Linked DNA regions of Homo sapiens: regions 1 and 3 are each reported to be linked to region 2. Evidence: microRNA targets listed by miRTarBase, many of them from high-throughput screens and not tested one by one. Region 2 holds a microRNA gene; each other region holds the end of a gene's coding sequence.
What was found. The annotated mature microRNA hsa-miR-4706 reads AGCGGGGAGGAAGUGGGCGCUGCUU and lies in region 2 at 2,889-2,913, shown strand. An mRNA with a match to its seed (bases 2 to 7 or 8) in the 3' UTR can be bound and repressed. Matches are read on the target gene's strand: a 7mer-m8 pairs with bases 2 to 8, a 7mer-A1 pairs with bases 2 to 7 and ends in A, and an 8mer does both.

Region 1: the mRNA of TMEM184B is a reported target of hsa-miR-4706. Seed matches in the 3' UTR shown: 7mer-m8 at 1,320-1,326.
Region 3: miRTarBase lists GNAI2 as a target of hsa-miR-4706. Seed matches in the 3' UTR shown: 7mer-m8 at 5,052-5,058.

The regions. Positions count from the first base shown.
Region 1 is chr22:38,215,242-38,222,429 of GRCh38, reverse strand. It overlaps TMEM184B (transmembrane protein 184B), which reads left to right. Exons shown (of 9, transcript NM_012264.5): 9 at 720-3,139. The coding sequence ends at 961. MAFF (MAF bZIP transcription factor F) reads right to left here. Exons shown (of 3, transcript NM_012323.4): 3 at 5,923-7,188. Among named protein-coding and RNA genes, the nearest start is that of SNORA92, 5.9 kb to the left of the region's middle. RefSeq lists enhancers at 2,901-3,752, 3,025-4,224.
Region 2 is chr14:65,041,809-65,048,996 of GRCh38, forward strand. MIR4706 (microRNA 4706) reads left to right here and starts at 2,880; the gene lies at 2,880-2,961. CHURC1-FNTB (CHURC1-FNTB readthrough) reads left to right here. Exons shown (of 14, transcript NM_001202559.1): 11 at 2,503-2,635. It overlaps FNTB (farnesyltransferase, CAAX box, subunit beta), which reads left to right. Exons shown (of 12, transcript NM_002028.4): 9 at 2,503-2,635. It also overlaps a transcript of MAX not described here.
Region 3 is chr3:50,256,298-50,263,485 of GRCh38, reverse strand. GNAI2 (G protein subunit alpha i2) reads right to left here. Exons shown (of 9, transcript NM_002070.4): 5 at 7,166-7,188; 6 at 6,634-6,763; 7 at 6,396-6,549; 8 at 5,772-5,986; 9 at 4,124-5,118. The coding sequence ends at 5,796. LINC03143 (long intergenic non-protein coding RNA 3143) reads right to left here and starts at 3,260. Exons shown (of 1, transcript NR_198941.1): 1 at 128-3,260. It also overlaps a transcript of SEMA3B not described here. RefSeq lists enhancers at 1,753-2,257, 2,780-2,879, 2,765-3,270 and silencers at 3,050-3,469, 6,250-6,299.

The sequences.
Region 1 (7,188 bases), not on the chromosome of region 2:
TCTTCTGGGGGCACAGTGCTGTTCATGGGATATCGGGGCATTTCACGATGTTTCCAAGAGTTCACAAGCTGAGTCAGGAATCCTGGGTTCCAGGGGTGGGCTCGTCCCTTACATCCAGGTGTCCTGGGCCACCTTTCTGCTCTGAGCCCCTGAGGATGGGGACAGTTGATTAGAGAGATGAGGAGGAAGCCCTCTTAGAGGGAGCCAGTGAGTCGCATCTGCTCCCCTGGGGGTGCAGGCCAGCCTGGTCCTGATCTCCAGAGTAGAGGGAGCACAGCACTTCCCCCGGTGGTGGGGGACGCGCCTGGCACCTGTGGAACCGGGCACCCCTGGCTTCCAGGCCCTCTGGCCCCACATGCCCCAACTTCAGTCAGTGCTGAGCCTGCTCTGGCCTCTCTGGGGCATTCTAGGCTCACTGCCCATAGCTTGCCAGTCTCCACCCTGGGTCCCTTCCCTGCAGCCAGCCCAGCTCCCAGTGGGGGTTTATGTCTGCTCCTCTTCACAGTCCAGCCTCCCCTTGGGGCTCCCCAGCCAAAGAAGTCCATTTTTTCCTGCCCCTTCTCATATCCTGGACCCCATTCTCTGTCCCAGAAGGGATGGTTGAAGGGCATAGCTTTGGGTTGGGGGGTGTCTGTCCCAGGATCACGGGCAGGGGCTGAGCCACCTCCCTCTCACCGTCCCAGCCTCCTCACCTGCCCCTCCCGCTCCCTGCCCGGCAGGCCGCTGTGCCCCCATGAAGAGCATCTCCAGCAGCCTCAAGGAGACCATGAACCCGCACGACATCGTGCAGGACGCCATCCACAACTTCTCACCTGCCTACCAGCAGTACACGCAGCAGTCCACCCTGGAGCCTGGGCCCACCTGGCGTGGTGGCGCCCACGGCCTCTCCCGCTCCCACAGCCTCAGTGGCGCCCGCGACAACGAGAAGACTCTCCTGCTCAGCTCTGATGATGAATTCTAGGTGCGGGCTGCAGTGGCGGAAGTGCTGGCGCCATAGCCACGGTCAGGCTGTGCCCCACCTCCAGCCTCACCACCAGGCCAGGAGGCAGCTGGCACAGTGCTCACGCCGCCTTTATTTATTGGACCAGAAACACTCACATGTCACTTCCAGAGGAACGGGGGACAGCCAGGCTCGCCCATGGGCCTTCAGGAATATTTATACATGGCCCAGCCTGCACTGCCCGGGCGAGGGCAGAGGACACTGGGAGCAAGGCTTATGCCCCTGCTGCCCGTCCTGTGCTGGGGGCATGCTGGGACCAGCCGCACCCAGGCCCCAATGCTTGTGTGTGGACCAGCGGCTGCAGCCTTCTAGCCCCTCCTCCCCGCGAGACTCTCAGGCTGAGGTCGGCAAGCCGTGGCTCCCCCACACACCGTGCAATACCCTGTCTGACCTGGGCTCTTCCCGCCTGCATCCCTCCCCTGTCCACCTTTGTCCAGTGCTAGATTCACCTCACCCCGGGCAGGAGTGGGGATGTGGGCGCTCTGTGGTCCTCCCCTCCTGACCCAGGCCTCTGTGGCATGCTGCAAGGATCAGAGCCAGACACCAGGAGTCACAGGCCCCACCCAGGAAGGGCATTCAGGGCCCCTGGGCACCGCTTCTGTTGAAGCAGGGGCTTCTGGGCCCCTGGGTATCCCCACCTGTCGTGGCCACACCTCTGCCTGCCTCATGCCCCTTCCCCCTGGCCTACCAAGGACAGCCCACAGCCCGCACTGCCGGCTCACTTGGGTCCTTCCTCGATAGCTTTGGGCAGAGCCCTTGCTTCCTGGCTGCTTCAGGGCTCAGGGGCTCCCAGCCCTCCTTCCCAGGCTGATGCTGGGTCCTCTCTCTCTTTGGGGCTTCTCCCTCCCGTTTCAGGGGAAAGGTCTGAGTCTCCACGTTTCAGACCAGCTTCTGGGGGAAGGCAGTCCGGCAGGGAGACCGGGAGGGGTGGCCACACAGTGGGGAGCTGGGAGGTGGGGGGAATGGTCCCAGACTCCTCTCGGGGCCCCTATCCACACAGGGCCTGGTGTTCTACCCCATCTGGCCCCTGGCCCATCTCTTCTGTGCCTTAGTCACATATGAAAGCGCCCCTCCCTGGCTCCCCATCTGTCCCACACGCTCCCTGGGGCTCTTAGTTCAGCTGCTGGCACTCGCAGGATCCTGCAGTGCTGGGCCCAGAGCCCTTGGACAGGCCTCAGGAGTGGTCAGGACCACCAAGCCCCTCCTCTCCCCCTCCACACCTCTAGACCTGGGGCCTCCGGAACCCCCAGCAGGCTGGGCTTATACTAGCTCCTGACTTAGGAAGAGCCTCGTGTCACAACACGTGTCCCTACAGGCAAAGTGTCCTGGCATTTAAAACCCAGATTATCCCTGGGTTTGGGCTGCAGTCACCTGGAGAAGCTGGTAGGGTAAGGGAGAGGGACCCTGCCGGTGTTCACTGGGGATTCTTTCTTTTGGTCCTTCCTGGAATGAACAGGTTCCCTCCCTGCCACCTGTGAGGAGAGTTGGGGCCCAGCCGTCTTCCTGGCCTCCTTCCTTTCCTCGTGGCAGAGGCCTGCATGTGGGTGCCAGAGGCCAGCTCTCCCCCTCCATCTTGGGGGGGCGGAGCAGTTGGGCCCAAGCTGCCCGGGAGGGTGGGTGCAGACACAGGCTGAGGACCAGCCCTGGCCCTGCCCCGCCATCTGCTTTCACCAAGCTGTCTCTCCACCGTGGCTTCCCTTCTCCCTCCAGGCCAAAGTGCTGCTGATTCCCACTCCCTTGGTTTTCGCCTGCCCAGCGTTGCTGTTTGCGTGGAGGGTGGGGGGAGCTCAGTGGCAGGGAATCAGCGGTCCGTGGGGTCGTGGGGACGGGAACATGTGCCCGACCGCTCCATCCCCTCCTCCTCCTTAGGATGCATAACCTACCTTGTCTTTTTTTTTTTTAATTTTCTTTCCAGGTAGAGTAGCTCTTTGTACATAAAGAATACTTGAAAAATTAATTGTATGATGTATGAGAAGACAGAGTCTCCTAGTTTTGTATCTTGTTGTATGACTGCCATGAGTTCCACCAGAAAGCCACTCTATTTTGGTCTCTGTGACATTTTAAATGCGTGACAGAAGTGAGCAAATAAAGTGAGGAAGAAATCTATATATGAGATAATATAGATTGTATTGAAATCTCTGCCTGTGGGTGAGGTTTTTCCTTCCTCCTCCCTGCCCCCTGCTCTGGCTTTGGGGTGGGTGGAGTGGCTGTGGGTACAGGCGGCTTAGGAAACCCTCTCCTTCCTGTGTGTAACCTTTCAGTGATGGGGGTTCGGATTGATAGGGACCAAGGTCAAGGCCCAGGCCCCCCTTGGACAAAGGGTCTCCCCAACCTCCAGCCAGTTCCCAACCCAGGACGGCCGGGCCGCAGGCGGTCGATGCTCCTTCCCTGTTTGGTCAACCAGGTCCATGGGGCCCACATGCTGGCAGCCCCGCTCCTGCAGGCATCTCCCAGGATTTCCTGGGATCCCCCTTTCAGACGAGCTTCCTGCGTCTCTGGGACTGTCCTCCACCCTGGGACCCTCAGGGCCAGGGACCCTGGGGCAGGGGGCCGCTGGCTGTGGGCACAGTGCCTGGCCTCTCTGGTACCGCATGCCTTCTTGGGGCCTGGCTTGCTGCTGACGGGAGCACTCAGGAATGCGGTGTGGGTGGGGGAATTCCCACCAGCCTCCCGAGGCGGGTAAATAGCCTGCGTCCTCCCGCAGCTTCCTGCTGCCCTTCCCGCAGGCCTGAGCTCAGCATTTCAGGGTCATGGGCTTGGCAGGGAAAGCACCGAGCCCCAACCTGAGAAGGGGAGAAAGCCCCGTGGACACGGCCTACCTACGTGATCTGGCCCTTTCCCGGACTCAAATCCTGCACCTTCGCCCAACTGGTCCCTTACCCCGCGGGCCCCATACCCAGCCAGCCCCATACCCAGCCATAGAGTTGGCCTCACCTCGGTCTGTGCCACTGTAAATGTGTGTTCGGAGTGTTAAAACCTGCAGCCCCACAGGTCTCCAGGGTTTTTCGCACGTAATGCCCCATAGCATCTTCATTTTACAGATGGTAAACTGAGACTGTAAGAAACCAAATAAGTACCAAAGATCCCACAGCTAAGAACAGACACCTAGATTCAAACCCCAATTGCCGTGACCCACAGACCACAGTATACTCCACTCCTTCTTCAGGGTGCCCCAGAAGGGCTGGCAGATTGGGTTGAAATTAGTGAGTTTGAGGCCTAGGACAAGACACAGGGTTATGGTTTAGGCCTGCAGGTGGGGGCTGGGAAAGCCACTCTCCCTGCCTCCCTGGGCATTCCGAAACATGGGGAAGATAGTTTCCACTTGGCTGTAGAAAATCAGATCTCAATGTGAAAGTGCTGGAAAAATTACTCTGAAATCTGGGTTTTTTCCTCTCTGGGTGGGACTGTCTGTTCACTAAAGGGATGCCCAGGGAATTTAACCCTAAATTTCTTCTTCTTTTGAGACAGGGTCTGTGTCACCTAGATTGTGCAGTGGTGCAATCATAGCTCACTGCAGCCTCAAACTCCTGGGCTCAACCACACCACCATGACTGGCTAATTGTTTTCTTTTCTTTTCTTTTCTTTTTTTTTTTTTTTTTGAGATGGAGTCTTGCTCTGTCACCCAGGCTGGAGTGCAGTGGCGCGATCTCAGCTTACTGCAACCTCTGCTTCCCGGGTTTAAGCGATTCTCTCTTGTCTCAACCTCCTGAGTAGCCAGGACTACAGACATGCGCCACCACACTCAGCTATGTTTTTCTGTTTTTTGTTTTGTTTTTCTTTTTTTTTTTGAGACGGAGTCTCACTCTGTCGCCCAGGCTGGAGTCCAGTGGCGCGATCTCAGCTCACTGCAAGCTCCGCCTCCCGGCTTCACACCATTCTCCTGCCTCAGCCTCCCGAGTAGCTGGGACTACAGGCGCCCGCCACCATGCCCGGCTAATTTTTTTTGTATTTTTAGTAGAGACGGGGTTTCACCGTGTTAGCCAGGATGGTCTCGATCTCCTGACCTCGTGATCTGCCTGCCTCAGCCTCCCAAAGTGCTGGGATTACAGGCATGAGCCACCGCACCCGGGCCATGTTTTTTTTTTGTTGTTGTTGTTTTTTGTATTTTTAGTAGAGACGGGGTTTCACCGTGTTAGCCAGGATGGTCTCGATCTCCTGACCTCGTGATCCGCCTGCCTCAGCCTCCCAAAGTGCTGGGATTACAGGCGTGAGCCACCGCACCCGGGCCATGTTTTTTTTTTGTTGTTGTTGTTTTTTGTATTTTTAGTAGAGACGGGGTTTCACCATGTTGGTCAGGCTGGTCTTGAACTCCTGACCTCAAATGATCCACCCGCCTCAGCCTCCCAAAGTGCTGGGATTACAGGTGTGAGCCACTGCGCCCGGCCTGTTTTCTTACTTTTAAATTTCTTGTAGAGATGGGGGTCTTGCTATGTTGCCCAGCCTGGTCTCAAACTCCTGGCCTCAAGTGATCCTCCCACCTCAGCCTCTTCAGTAGCTGGAACAATAGGCATGTGTACCACCACATGTGGCTAATTATTTTTTATTTTTTGTAGAGATGGGGTGTCACTATGTTGCCCGGGTTGCTCTTGGACTCCTAGTCTCAGATGATCCTCTTGCTTCAGCCTCCCAAAGTGCTGGGATTACAGGTGTGAGCCACCATGCTCCGCCAGAATCCAGTCCTAAATTTCATTGTGCCCATGGCTTTGTCTTCCCAGGAGCTCCTGTGCTCTAAGCAACCAAGAGGAAGCATCGAAGTTTCAGCATCACTGGTCTCTGTCGCCATCTCCCCTCCACCTCATACCCTGTGCAATAGCTGGTGATGTGCACTAGCCCTCCCCGCCACCAGAAGCCCTAAGGGGTTGAAAGCAGAACCCCATTTTAGACACCCCTCGCCAAAAAACATAGTCCAGGATACACATTTATTCTCTGTGGAAAAAGAAAGAATTTGACTTTATTTAGAAAGTCTACAAAATACAGAAGACGATAACTCGCTTGCTGTAAGTCAGGAAATAAATAAATTCTAGGAGCCGGGCAATATTTTTTAACTTTTTTTTTGAGACAGGATTTTGCTATGTTGCCCAGGCTGGAGTGCAGTGGTGCGATCTCAGCTCACTACAACCTCTGCCTTCTGGGCTTAAGTGATCCTCCTGCCTCAGCCTCCCAAGTAGCTGGGACTACAGGCATGAGCCACCATGCATGGCTAATTTTTGTATTTTTTGTAGAGATGGGGTTTCACCATGTTGTCCAGGCTGGTCTCAAACTCCTGGACTCAAGCGATCCCCCTCCTTGGACTCCCAAAGTGCTGGGATTACAGATGTGAGCCACCGCGCCCGGCTTAAACATTTTTTGTTGTTGCTCTCCGGCTTTCCCTAAATATAAGATAAAATGTGATTTATTTGCAGATATAAAATATAAAGCCCAGCTCAGGGCCATACGCCACTTTTCCCAGGGAGCAGGAGCTCGGGCTCTGGCTGGGGAGAATAACTTAGATCCGTGCAATAAATAAACAGTGGGGAGGGGCAGTGTGGACAGTGTTGGGGGAGGGACTGAGACTGGGCTTCCCAGGAGAATGACAATCAAAGGCAGGGGTCAGCCCCCACCCCACAGTGGACACTGACAGGGGTTGAGGTGGGACCCTTCTTCTTAGGACCCCACTCCAGACTGTAGTAGGACTGCAGGGTCTGTCTCCTTGTCTCCCTATTTGCCACAGCAGTCCATGGCCCCCTTTCTCTGACTGGCCAGCCCCCGGACACCCTGGCTGCAGGGACAGCCTAGGGCTGAGCCAGGCCAGCTCCTTCCCACTCTTCCATCCGTGTCACCTTCTCTCTCCCTCTGCTTCTCTCCCCCTCCCTTGCAGAGAGCGGTCTCCCAAGCCAGGGAGGCCCTCCCACCACATTTCTGAGTCCCTGTCCACTGTCCCCCTGAAAACCATGGCTGGACTCAGGGCAGCAGTGAGGACACCCAGGTTTTGGTCCCAACACAACCACTAAGTGAAATGTGACCTCAGGCCTGTTTCCCCATCCGTGAACTGGGTTTCACTAGTCTTCCCACCCACTCTTTTAGTTTCGGAAGGCCAGGCACCCCCAGGCCCAACCAGAGGTGGGGGCATCTCTTCAGTGCAATTTCTCAGCAGGACGGTCCCGTAAGTCACAGACAGCCAAACCTAGCTTTGAATCCTGGGAGGGTTT
Region 2 (7,188 bases):
TTTCTCAGATGTTTTAAAATCTGAACACCAATAAGGCATGAAACAAAAAAGTCCCATCTCCCAGGCAGAGATAAGGAATGTGATTAGGGAGTGCCTCAGTTATAAAGACAGTGTTCTAGATTTGAACCCTGTCCCTACTACATTTGAGACATGAGTCCTTGGGCAAATTGTCTAATCTCTTTTAGCTTGATATTTTTTTCTTTTATAAGGTAGGGATAACAATCCTTATTTTTTTAAGGTTAAAGGAGAGAACATTTATAAACAGCCTGGCACATAGTAGGTACTTAATAAATGTTAGTGTCCCTCTAACCCACAGTAATAATCTTTTTGGCACAAGGGACCAGTTTTGTGGGAGATAATTTTTCCGTGGACCTGGGGTTGGGGGTGGGACGGGGGGTGATGGCTTCAGGATGATTCAAGTACATTACATTTATTGTGTACTTTATTTCTATTATTACACTGTAATATATAATGAAATAATTATACAACTCACCATAATGTAGAATCAGTGAGAGCCCTGAGCTTGTTTTCTTTCAACTAGACAGTCCCATTTGGGGGTGATGGGAGACAGTGACAGATCATCAGGCATTAGACTCTCATGTAGAGCGTGCAACCTAGAAGCCTGGCATACACGGTTCACAGTAGGGTTTGCGCTCCTATGAGAATCTAATGCTGCTGCTGATCTGTCAGGAAGTGGAGCTCAGGCAGTAATGGGAGCAGTGAGGAGCAGCTGTAAATACAGATTAAGCTTCACTGGCTCACCCACCACTCATGTCCTGCTGTGCAGCCTGGCATGGTCTGGGGGTTAGGGACCCCTGCTCTAATCCAGACTACTCCCTTCCATTTGCTTTGGGAGAAGTAGGACCCATATCTGAAGTATGAATTCCTATAGCCCAAGGAAACAGAACAAATCCATGGGCTTAGGCACTGGAAAAAGTAAATTAGTCTGCTTAAAAACACTTAAGCCCTGCGGTAAGTAGAAATGAGGAACCGACTCCCACTGCAGCGCCTGCTTTCTCTCTGCCTGAGTAATGCTTAGCCCACTTCCATTACATGCTGGAAGCCCTGGTTCATTTAAGATCAACCGAGGATATATTAGTACCTGAACCTGCAGTACAGTGTTTTCTGTCTCTTTTAAGCATTTGTGACTGTGACTCTCTATGGGCAGGTGTTGCCTTGAAGAGGGAATAATCTAAACAACAGCTTTTAGGGGAGGGCTGGCCCCCACTTCCATCAAGGGTCCCAGTGGCTCCTTTCAGGACCTTTACCTAGTAAGACTCTAGAAACAGGAAGTACCCTCCCCTGTACCCTTTCAGTTGAGTGAGGCAGCTCTGTAAGTCCGTGGCTGGAACGGCCTAGGTGGTCTAGGGAGGGAAATGGAAATGTCATATCTGCTCAGCCAGTTGGTTCTGCTCATTCTGAGGGACCAAACCCATGACTATCTTGATCTTTGTAGTAGAGTGTGTTTAGAAAACTTGTAGATAAGCAAGGAATGGTGGTATCGTGTGTGACCGCTGAGTGACATCAAGACCAAGACCTATTTTACAGCTTCAAAGTAAAAGATTTTCTTATATCAGCCACAGACTGGGCAGAGTTGTCATTTGGTAATTAGAATGAATGGCTTCTGCTTTCAGGCCTGCTAGTGACTTGCTAAGAGACCTTGGGTAAATTTCCCCAGGTGCCAAGTAAAAGTCAGGAGCAGTTTGAGATCATCTGATGAAATGTAGTACCAGGCCGGGCACGGTGGCTCACGCCTGTAATCCCAGCACTTTGGGAGGCCGAGGCGGGTGGATCATGAGGTCAGGAGATCGAGACCATCCTGGCTAACAAGGTGAAACCCCGTCTCTACTAAAAATACAAAAAATTAGCCGGGCGCGGTGGCGGGCGCCTGTGGTCCCAGCTACTCGGGAGGCTGAGGCAGGAGAATGGCGTGAACCCGGGAAGCGGAGCTTGCAGTGAGCCGAGATTGCGCCACTGCAGTCCGCAGTCCGGCCTGGGCGACAGAGCGAGACTCCGTCTCAAAAAAAAAAAAAAAAAAAAAAAAAAAAAAAAGAAATGTAGTACCAAATTCCATTTATCTGCTTTTAATAAACTCCCCGGAGCAGGGAAGTAATGAGAAATGAGCTACTGGTAGTCTTGCCTTCAATTTCCAACTTAAGCCATGTTTATTAAGAGACTTTGAAGGTCTCCTTACAAACCAGCTTGGCCTCTTTATCTTCTCAGCACTGGCACTGCTTTGGAACCCAGGAAAAGGTAGTTGTCTGCCAGGCATTGAGCAGAGATCAGTGCTGGATGCCTCTACAGCGTTGGCTTAAATGCTTCACTCTGTGTCTATGGCAGTGTGGGGAGGGAAGGAAAGAAAACCAGAGCACCAAAACTAGAGTGCCAAGAAGCCACAAGATGGGAAACCCTCCATCCCACAGATTGACTCCTGGAGATTCTGTCGGGCTGGATTTTGTCTCTTTTAGCCTACAACTGCCTTTCCCATCTGTGTCTCCTCAGCAATGGGTGACAAGCCGGCAGATGCGATTTGAAGGAGGATTTCAGGGCCGCTGCAACAAGCTGGTGGATGGCTGCTACTCCTTCTGGCAGGCGGGGCTCCTGCCCCTGCTCCACCGCGCACTGCACGCCCAAGGTGAGCCTGGGGAGCTGTTCACTTGGGGCTGGATGATTTCCCTCCACTACTCACAAAGTCTGGAAGCCCAGCGTGCTTTTTTAGAGGGGTTGAAATGAGCTCTGTCTATCCTGGATTTTGAGTGCCCAGTGTGGAACCTCATGCCGTGGGGCATGCGAATGCAGAGTAAGATTTAGTTTCATTGGTTTAGTGTCATTCTTTGCTTCTTCAAATTGGCTGCGACAGAATGAGCTTCCTTGAAATTGCTACGGGGAGCGGGGAGGAAGTGGGCGCTGCTTCTGCGTTATCTGGAAGGAGCAGCCCACTCCTGTCCTGGGCTCTGTGGTGATTGCCACCTCCTCTGGGTGCAGGGCAGAGCTGAAAACCCTCAGTGTTGCAACAGTCACTGTTGCAACAGCAACAGGAAAGGCAACTGCGTAAAGGGGTAGAGAACCAGAACCCATGTGTAGGGGTGGGTTGTAGGGGTGGGTTGCCCCTACACCATGGAGAAGAGACTCGCCGTGTCTGACTGGCTGCAGAGTTGTCACTATTAGAAATGTTTTATTTTACATTCATTGAATAAGCCTAAATGGGAGTTTGTTCCACCTGCACCATTGGAGTAGAGAAATCCACGTTCGTTTCTGTGGGGTCTCAAATGGGAACGCAAAACCGAAGTAGTTAGTGAGCAAAAAGTCTGGGAACATTCTCTCTCTATCTCTTGAAACCTCAGTCTGCCTGCTAACTCCTGCACCATCTTTCTGGTGTACTTGATGTGAGAGCAGGTGTCTCTGAGTAGACCTGTGGGAGAGAGGAAGTCATGGGGCCCTGCTGGTTGCTGATCTGTTTTTGGAATGAGATCCCTGGGTCCAAAGAGAAGCTGTTCTTCGGACTTAGTTGGATAATGTAACTGCTCAAATGTAAAAGATGAGATTCTTTTCTGCCCCTCCCCATACTTTTTTTTCCTGTTTCTGAGCCCCCCACCCCCCGTCTTCCCCCCTCCCCGCCGCCCCCGAGATGGAGTCGTGCTCTGTCTCCCAGGCTGGAGTGCAGTGGCACGATCTTGGCTCACTGCAGCCTCCACCTCCCAGGTTCAAGCAATTCTCCTGCCTCAGCCTCCTGAGTAGCTGGGACTACAGGCGCGTGCCACCACACCTGGCTAATTTTTGTATTTTTAGTAGAGACAGGGTTTCACCATGTTGGACAGGCTGTTCTTGAACTCCTTACCTCAGGTGATCCGCCCACTTCGGCCTCCCAAAGTGCTGGGATTATAGGCGTGAGCCACCGCACCCGGCCCTGAGCCTCATTATTTAGTTTCTTAATTTCCTTTGAGTTGTTGAGTTGTGACCATTTCTGACACTGAATTAAAGTAAGCAGAGCCTCTGTCCCATTTTCCCGGCCTGGGCCCACTGGGCTTTAGGTGTCAGTATTAAGGCATATAAGGCACTTACCCTTGGAACACAGCAAGTGCACTGTCAGCAAGTGCACTGACTTTGGAGCCTGCACAGTCTCTGCCTTGACCACCAGTAGGGAAGTCAGGAATTCCCCAAGTCAAACATTTTTTATTTTAGTATTATTTTTTTTTGAGACGGAGTTTCACTCTTGTTGCCCAGGCCGGAGTGCAATGGATCACTGCAACCTCTGCCCCCTGGGTTCAAGTAATTCTCCTGCCTTAGCCTCCTAAATAGCTGGGATTATAGGCATGCACCACCACGCCCAGCCAATTTTGTATTTTTAGTAGAGACAGGGTTTCTCCATGTTGGTCAGGCTGGTCTCGAACTCCTGACCTCAGGTGATCTGTCCGCCTTGGCCTCCCAAAGTGCTGGGATTACAGGCGTGAGCCACCGTGCCTGGCCCAACATTTCTAAGATAGAAAAAAACTTGGGGTCATGGTGATCTCTTTATTTGGAACTGGTGAGGTCAAGCCCCTGGTAAAATGGTCAGTCTTTTACAAACCTGTCCCTGGCATGGATAAGACTCAGTAATTCTGCAATCCCAGGGAAATGTGGAATGAGCTATAACAGGAGCACCACCTGTCAAAGTCTTCCAGGGGGGCTGCTGGTTAATTGTTTCTTGTAGCACATGTTCTAGGGGGCTTAGTGGCATTCAAAGCTTTGTCTATGGAAAAGGGTGCCTATGAATCTTGGTGCTTCCAGCTTTTTTCATTGGCTGGGAGAAGGCCTGTGTTGTCTTCTCAGACACAGGGCATCTCTTGAACTTGGAACAGACAGGAGTCTGTAAAGAAGGGAAGTGTGTTGAAAGGAGGGCAAAATACTGACTTTGGGAGTCAAAAGGGGATGCAGTGTAGAAAGATAGTCACAATATATTGTGATCATATCAAAGCAATATGTGTGGAATCCCATTTTTAGTGAAGAGTTGACTACAAAAAATTCATAGAAAGTATCTAGGATGTGAAGTTACAGGTGATGTTTGCTTCTGTTTGTATTTTCTAATCTTTCTATAGTTAATAGGTATTTCTTGCATAAAAAAAGACAACAAAAGTTATTTTACAGAAACAGGGAAATTCTACAAACAAAACAAGCAAAAAGGTGCGAAAAATATTTATAACAAGTGATGAATGGCTAATTTCTTTAATTTGAAAAAAAATCATACAAACCAGTAAGAAATGGATGGACAACCCAACTGAAAAACAGGCAAAGGATCTGAAGAAAGAGGTCCCAGTGAAAGAACTGTCCTTCTTACTTTTTCTACTACAACTGCCACTACTACTGGTAGCGGAGTCTTCCCAAGCCCTCACTGTATGCCAGGGGCTGTACTGAGCATTTCACATATGTTTTCTCATTTAATTCTCAAAACAACCCTATGAAATAGGTACCATTGTTTACAGATGAGGAAACAAACTACAGTGAGGTTAAGTGATTGCTTTATAATACCTGATTGGCACTCACAAGGGTTAGTATGTGGTTGTGTGAATCCAGACTAGCTGGCATCTGAACCCTGCCCTGCTCATAACCACAGTAGGTGGCCATTAATCCAACGAAAAATTGTTTAGCTCACTTGTAGTAAAAGAAATGCTAATCAAAAGAGTGGCACTATTTGTTTTTATTATTGGATTGGCAGAGATTAAAAAACTTGATACCCTATGTTGGGGAGAGTGTGAGAAAACAGGTAATTTGATAGTGGGGATGTAAATAGGTTAAGTCATTTTTTGGAGGGCAGTTTGGAGACATCCATTTAAATTATAAGGGCACTTACCCTTTGAACACAGCAAGTGCACTGTCAGGAATTTACCTGCAGGGATATTAGCAAAGGATGTATATTGAAGTGGAGTTTCAATAGCAGCCTAAGTGCCTATCAAAAGGTTAAGGGTTAAATAATAAAAATCTCTCCAAACAGTAGCTGCATACCATGGGCTGATATAGAAAGCTCTGCAAGATACAACATGAAGTGTAAGGGGGCGGGGCCTGGAGCAGTGCCTGGGCACACAGCCCGAGATGTACACAGCTTTTCCTGGAACCCTACACAAAACCCCTTGAACAATGGGTACCTTTGGGAGAAGAGAAGCAGACAGAAGACAGAAGGAGGGAGACTTTTTAGATTTTTTTTTTTTTTTTTTTTTTTTTTTGAGACAGAGTCTCACTCTGTTGCTGAGGCTGGAGTGCAGTGGTGCAATCTCGGCTCACTGTAGCCTCCTCGGTTCAATTGATTTTCTTGCCTCAGCCTCCTGTGTAGCTGGGATTACAGGCGTGTACCACCACACCCAGCCAATGTTTTCTATTTTTAGTAGAGACAGGATATGACTATGTTGGCCTGGCTGGTCTCAAACTCCTGGCCTCAAGTGATCCACCTTCCTTGGCCACACAAAGTGCTGAGATTACAGGCGTGAGCCACCATACCTGGCCAACTTTTTAGATTTTCTATCCTTCTGTATTATACTGTGCCTTTAAAAAAAAAAAAACCATGTGCATTACTAATTTTATTTTGGTAAATGTACAAATACATTTTTTAAAAGGCATTGATCATATTGCTAACTAAAAAGCAAAAAGAATGCTCTACATAGTGCAGCACGTGGGTCTAGGCCATGCCCTGACCCAGCAAGTGACCATCAGTGGCTCCATGCCATTGACTACCTTCTATGTGTAAATGACAGTATTTGAGTAGAAGAAGGAATTACTATTAGTACCTTAAAATGCTGGACATGGTGGTTCATGACCATAATCCCAGCACTTTGGGAGGCCAAAGCAGGAGGACCTCTTGAGCTCAGGAGTTCAAGACCAGCCTGGGCAATATAGTGAGAGCTTGTCTCTACAAAAAATTAAAAACAGTTAACCAGACATGGTGGCACATGCCTGTAGTCCTAGCTACTCAGGAGGCTGAGGTAGAAGGATCACTTGAGTCTGGGAGGCAGAGGTTGCAGGCAGAGAGTGCCACTGCAACTCCAGCCTGAGCGACAGAGCAAGACTTTGTCTCAAAAAAACACAAAAGCCTGTAATCCCAGCATTTTGGGAGGCCGAGGTGGGTGGATCATGAGCTCAGGAGTTCAAGACCAGCCTGGCCAACATGGTGAAACCCCATCTCTACTAAAGATACAAAAAATTAGCCAGGCATGGTGCCAC
Region 3 (7,188 bases), not on the chromosome of region 2:
GCTTTGCCACCCAGGCTGGAGTGCAGTGGCAAGATCATGGCCCACAGCAGCCTTGACCTCCAGAACTCAAGTGATCCCCCCACCTCAGCCTCCCGAGGAGCTGGGACTCCAGGCACACACCACAACACACAGTTAATTTTTGTATTTTTTGTAAAAATGGAGGTCTCACTATGTTGCCCAGGCTGATCTTGAACTCCTGGGTTCAAGTTATCCTCCTCCTGCCTCAGCCTCCCAAAGTGTTGGAATTATAGGCCTGAGCTACCACACCGAGGCCACAGGACCACTCTGAAGCTTGGTGTAGCTTCCAGTACTCCACCTGCCCCATTTCTGGGATGCATTAGCTCTTTTGTTGCCAAGACTTTGCTTGCGCTGTGCCCTCCACCCTTTAGACCCTTCCCCTTGTCACCTGCTGGACTTCTCACCGTTCATGATCCACCTTGGCTGTCACCCGTCTTCTGTGTAATTCCAGACCCCTGTGGTGCCAGGTTCAAGCCTCTGGGCAGGGCTCTGTGTTCCCCACTGTGGGGGAAGCAGCAAGGGCTATAATCACTGGAGAACCCAGGACCCAGCAGAGGACAGGCACAGGGAGGCGGGAGATGGTGTGCCCGCAGGAAGCCCTTCCACCTTCCTAGGCATGCTGAGTCTCCACGGGGTTGGAAGACGGATGGAGAAAGGACACCCCTTAACCCTGTCCCAGTCCCCCAGGCCTTGATGACCCTGACCTCAGTAAGGTCAGAAAGCAGAAGGCAGTGGGATGAGATGTCAAACTCTGATTTTTCTCCCAGCCAAGATCACCAGGGACTGTGGGGCTGCATCTCTGGCAAGGGGAGAAAAGGACCCATGGCCTTGACTTCTGCTCCTCTTGGATATTAGTGCCCATCACCGTGTGACTGAGGGCTGAGTGGCTTGCAGGCATGGACATATTTGCTGCCACACAGCTGCATACATACCCCAGCTGACTGGAGGCCATCCCCCTGGGTGATGAGAGGTGCTGCCTTCCCTCTGGTAGTCCATGGTAGAGATGAGGACCGCTAGGATCTTTTGTTTTTAAGAGACGGGGTCTTGCTATGTTGCCCAGGCTGGTCTCAAACTTTTGGCCTCAAGTGATCCTCCTGCCTTGGCCTCCAAAAGTGCTGGGATTAAGGCATGAGCCACTACATCCAGTCAGGGTCTCCTTTTATTTATTTTTTTGAGATGGAGTCTCGCTCAGCCACCTAGGCTAGAGTGCAGTGGCACAATCTTGGCTCACTGCAACCACCGTCTCCTGGGTTCAAGTGATTCTCCTGTTTCAGCCTCCTGAGTAGCTGGGATTACAGGCACCCGTCATCATGCCCAGCTAATTTTTGTATTTTAGTAGAGACGGGGTTTCACCATGTTGGCCAGGCTGGTCTTGAACTCCTGATCTCAAGTGATCCGCCCACCTTGGCCTCCCAAAGTGCTAGGATTACAGGCGTGAGCCACCACACCCAGCCCCAGGGTCTCTTTTTAGGGCAGCAGACACAGAGATTGGGGTCAGTTTTGGGGAGTGGGGCCAGACCCAGAACTCAGCCAAACAATACTGTAGTCTTGTCCTTGCCTCCTCCCTGACTCCCTGACTCCTAGGGTTGCTAGGACTTGGCTGGCTATGCCACTGACCAGGCAGCTGGAGTCAGGGCTTGTATTCTCTACTCAACTGGTTTGCCACTCAGTTTGGGTGGGGTGGGGTGAAATGATTCTGGGGAACTGAGAGGACTAAGTTTTCCTGACATCAGAAGCCATGGGGCTCCCTGGAACATGGGACTTCTTCCAGGCCTTGGCAGCCCCTGCAGCCTCGGTGATCCCTGCTGTAACCCTGGAGAGGGCCCTTTCCCCCTTCTGCACCTGGCATCTAGGTCTGCACCTACCTGCTGGGACAGGGGGTGGTACAGGGGGGGTGTCTAGGCCTGGGGAACTACCGAGGCAGCCTGCCTGGCTCCTCCTCACTGAGTTTCCCTCTACTCTCCTCTCTCAGGCCTCTCTGACTCTGAAAGCTTGCCTCTCTCTTCCTAGCTGCTCCCCCACCCCCCAAATGGGTTAAAAATACCAAAGTTCCCACCACATCAGTAGCCGGAGCAATTATTTCAAGTGGGCCAGGCCCTCTGGGAGGCAGATCAACTTCATGGCAGTCTCCACAGGCTGGAGACAACTCACCCCACGCTGGGAGCATGAGCCTGGGTCCCTGCCCAGCTCTGCATGTCCTGCTAAGGGTCCTGGGCCTCACAGCTGCAGTTCTCCATGCGTGGAGACAGAAAGATGGGGCTTCTTAGGCTGGGAGGGCTCTGGGGATGCAGCGCCAGGGAGCATTGAATTTCTGGTGCTCCTCACCCAACTGCTCCTGAGGGTTGATGAATGGTTGAGGTCCAGCCTGGGACAGCTCCAGGCAGCAGGGGATGCCCAGGAACCAACCTCATGGAGTCCCTTCAGTTGGGGTGCAGGACACCTGGGCAGCCCCTTCCTGCCTGCAGCCCCCCATGGCTGGGAATTTCCCAACCACCAAACACAAGGCTGAATTGACAGGCCGCCTCCACCAGTGCTGGGACAATGGAGCCTTATGCCCTGGAAATCTGAGCCTGGGTGGGAGGCCGGGGCAGGTGGAGGCCTAGCTGTCTGCACTCAGGGAAGCCCTGCCCCCAGGATCCCACCCAGACCCACTGCCAAGACGGCACCAGGGCAATCCTGTCAAGGCCCCGCATGGCCCACCCAGGGAGGGAGGCACTGGGTGAGTTAGGCAGACAATGCCAGGCCCTCAATGGTCCCTCTGTGCAGGGTTCCCCCTCAGGACAGAAGGAAGGAACCATCTCCCGCCCGCTTCCTGCTGGGCGGGCATCGGGGCTCTGGCGCTCCTGCTCGCACATCTGCGGCTCAGCGGGGTCCAGGCCTGGGCCTCTGAAAGAAGGCGGGGACCTGGGTTGGGCGCAGGATCCTGTTCTCCGTGTCGTCGGCCCTCGCAGGCAGGGGCAGCAGGAAAGGCCCGAGGAACTGGGGCGGGGACCGGGCCTGGGGGGCGCCGATGTCCTTCCGACCGGGCGGCAGCAGCCTTTCATCTCCTGCCAGTGCCGGCGGCCGAAGCTACGGGGCACTGGCAGGTGTGCGGGGACGGGGTCCCGGGTCTCTGGCTCAACCCTCCAACCCTCCCTCCCTCCCCGCCTCCGCGGCGCCGACCCCGGCCCGCCCTCTGCCCAGGCCGCTCTGTCCTGGGGCGGCCGCGGAGCCGTCGCCGCCTCACAAAGCTGCCTTTGTGTCCAGCGGCCTCCGCGGGACCCGCTGACGTCAGCCTCTGTGACCAGCCAGGCAGGGCAGAGCACGGGCGGCGGCGCCCCCTGGCGGCCGGAGGCGGATGCGCCAACGCCGGAGCCCCACCCAGTCGAGGCCAGCCTTTCCGCGAGCCCGCCCCCACACGTTCAGGCCGCGGCTGCCCCCGGGAGAAGGTCCAGGCGCCTCGATGGCACTCAGGGCCCGCCCCACAAGCATCACCAGCCTTGCCATCTGCAATTCCCTTCCCCAGAAACGCGCGGGCCCTTCCCACAGCCTCATGGAGCCTTCCATCTTCAGAGTCAATGATCTGCAGCTCTCCAGGCCCAGCCTGGGGCAACCATCACATGGTAGTATGGCCACCTGTCACTACCCTTCAGGTTTGGCGGCGGCCCTCTGGGGCAGGGAACTTTCTGAATATGTCTTAAGGCCCCTACTGGCCTTTTTAGTCAAGCCAGGACTGCATGCGGCCCACCTGGCTGTGTGGCCTTGGCAACGGACACTCTCAGGCCTTGGTACCTAAGTCGGAAGTCACTTTCTCCTTCCGCGCTAGAGAGGCCGGCCACCCCTCCTGCTCCAGGTGTGGAAGAGCACCTTACAACAGCTCCCTTAGAAGCCTGCCCAGCTGCCCGAGACCCAAGGCTGCAGAGTACTGGAAGGGCGGGGACACACGGGCCCCACATGTATGCTGCCTAGTCCAGGTGGGAGAAATGAAGCTCAGAGCGTGGGGCTCCAGGACGGCCCGGAAAGCTGAGTCAGGGCCCTGACTCAGGTTGAGGACTGAGGTTAGGACCACCATCACCTTGGCACACCTTAGCCCAGGCCTCTGCCCCTGGGAGAGAATACCCATCAGTTCTCGGTATTTTTTTTCTTTCTACATTTTATTATTTCAAACCAGGTGAACAATTCCATAAAACATGTGAAAAAAGCAAGGAAGTGTTCAACGCTGAAGGCCCCGGGCCTGGGACAAGGGCATGAGGGGCGTGGCCCCCCAGCAGGCAGCGGCGGTTCCTAGGTTAGCGCTAGGGAGCTACATTTTAGGTTAATAGAGCCTGGGGCCAGGGCCGCTGGGGCAGGGCCCTCAGTGACGTTGGCAGTTGTCTGGAACAGCCCTTGGAACCCAATTCTGTGGAGGGCAGGGCAGGGGTGCCGCTCGCACGGGGGCGGCCAGCAGAGGGACGGGTGTAAACACGCAGACACACTCAAGGCACGGAGTCACTTGGAAGGGGGGCTGGGGGGGGGCTTGCTGGTCAGGATCTGACAGTTTTAAATAGTTTTTCTCTAAAAAGTTTTCTAGATTTGCAGTTTTTTTTTTTTCCTTTACTTTCATTTTTTTAAAAAGCTACGAGAATGAGCAGGTGGACTGTGGTTTCCAGGAATGGTGGCGTCTCACGCTTCTTGTGCTTTTTCCTTTGGGGCCTCCGAGCGGCTGGGGTTGGGGGACTGGGCAGGAGGCTCCCTGTAAACATTTGGACTTGGGCTGGGGCAGGGGCTGGTGTTGGGCAAAGCTGGGGGTCCAGGCTGGAGAAGCAGGGGCCCCTCCAGACGCAGCCTTGGGAGACTCAGCATGTGCCCCCCTCCCCTCATCACAGAACAAGACAATGGTTAAAAACCAGAACAGATGCCCAGAAGGGGGTACCATGGCCATTACCAGCATCTCAGACAAGGGCAGGCTTCAAACAGGGAGGCCTGTGGCAACCCCTCCCCTACGTCTGGAGCTGAGGGGACAGGGGGAGCTGAGAACAAAGAGAGGAAAGAGGAGAAAAGCGGCGGGGGAACAGGCGGGGAGCGTGATCTTCTTGCCCCCATCTTCCTCAGGGGTTGGGGGGTACAAAGTCGGCGGTGGCCCTGGAGGTGGGGGAAAGCAGAGCATGGATCGGGAAGCAGCCAGGGCGTGCCTCTCTCCCGCCTCCCTAGACAATGACCCTTCTCTATTTTTCCTACCCATTTGTTACCAGGGACACAGTTGCCGCCCAGGAGCCAGTTTCTGTTGCTGGGTTACGTGGGGGAGGGGAGTCTGTGGCACTGGGAGAGTCATCCCCACCTCCACCAGGGCCAGTGGGGCCAGCCTAAGCCCGGGACGCTCAGACAAGTCAGAGGGCAAGAGCTGGAGGTGCACATGGAGCTGGTGGTAGTGGGCAGCAGGGCTGGGCTCCGCTGGCATGCAGCTTCCGGCAGGCTGGGCCAATGGCCTGGTGGGTGAGGAGGTGAGATTTCTCCAGGGAACATCAGGATGGCCTCTGGTTCTGTCCCAGGGCAAGGCCAGGCCCTTCTGTCTGGACCACTGGGCCAGGCCTGCTTGTATGACCTCCTCCATGCCCTGCACCTCACTCACTTGACCTCCTGATTCACACCCTGGGCCTTCTCCTCCCTTGTCCCCTGGTCACCTATTGCCCCTCCCCCTCCAGGTTCACCCCCCTACCCACCCCCAGAACCCCCTGCTGGGGCTCCAGGCCCGCTTAGTTCTTCCCCAGCACCCTGCCACAGCCCCTCTGGCTCACCATCCCGCCAGGCCCCGCTGCCCCTCAGAAGAGGCCGCAGTCCTTCAGGTTGTTCTTGATGATGACATCGGTGACGGCGTCAAACACGAACTGCACGTTCTTGGTGTCGGTGGCGCACGTGAAGTGCGTGTAGATCTCCTTGGTGTCTTTGCGCTTATTCAGGTCCTCAAACTTACTCTGGATGTAGCTGGCTGCCTCATCATATTTGTTGGCCCCTGGGGGAGAGAAAATGAAGACTTGTGCTGCATGTGTGGCAGGCAGGCCGCATCCTACGTGTGCAGCAAGGGTCTGTGCGTGTGGACGGCCAGGCATACAACCTGTGCATGCATGTGCATAATATGACAATGTTTGTGGCTGCCCATACATGCCAGATGTGCAAAGGGGTACCCCACTGTGTGAAGGAGGATGCCCATGTACACATGTTCAGGGGTACATGCTTGAGTGTGTTAAGGGCTTCATGTGTGCACACACAACTATACAAGCCTAAGTGAGGCACCAGCCCCTGCCAGTGTTCCAAGGTTACACTTCTGTCCAGTGGGGGGCGCCTGAGGGCCACCTGGTCACCATAGGCTACTTGGGACAAGAAGCAACCCTCTGGAGGCCCTATCCCCACAGTCCCCACACCTGTGTACTCAGGGAAGCAGATGGTCAGGGGACTGTGTGTGATCTTCTCCTCAAACAGGTCCTTCTTGTTGAGGAAGAGGATGATGGACGTGTCTGTGAACCACTTGTTGTTGCAGATGCTATCGAATAGCTTCATGCTCTCATGCATGCGGTTCTGGGGGTAGAATAGCAAGGTCAACGCTAGCCACCACTCCCCAAGCCCGCTGCCCCCACCCGCAGCATTCTCTCATCCTCTCACCATCTCCTCGTCCTCAGCTAGCACCAAGTCATAGGCGCTCAAGGCTACGCAGAAGATGATGGCTGTGACGCCCTCAAAGCAGTGGATCCACTTCTTCCGCTCAGACCGCTGACCACCCACATCAAACATCCTGCAGATATAGATCACCTTAGTTCCAGGAAGGGAGCCTGGGGGAGGCTTTCTACCCCATTTCTCAGGTTGGCTGACTGAGGACAGAGGCCTGCCCAGAGTAGGGCAGCTACCTTCTGGAATCATCCACACTTGCCCACTTCACCCCTGGTTCTGGGCCAGGAGCTTGGACAGCAGGCAGGCTGCAGCCACATCAGGCAGGAGCAGCAGAGGCTGTGAGCAGCTGGCAGAGGTGGCGTGGATCCTGACTGCTGGTTCACTAGGTGGTGAGGATGTGCTTGCCCAGAACACATGAGCCTTGTAAAACCTCAGTGGGGCTGGGGGATCCTGGACCAGCCCCTGCCTCTGCTACCCCAGAGGCTGGCAGGTCCTGCCCCTCCCACCTGTCCACATGCTCGCTCACTTGAAGTGTAGGTCCTTGAAGGT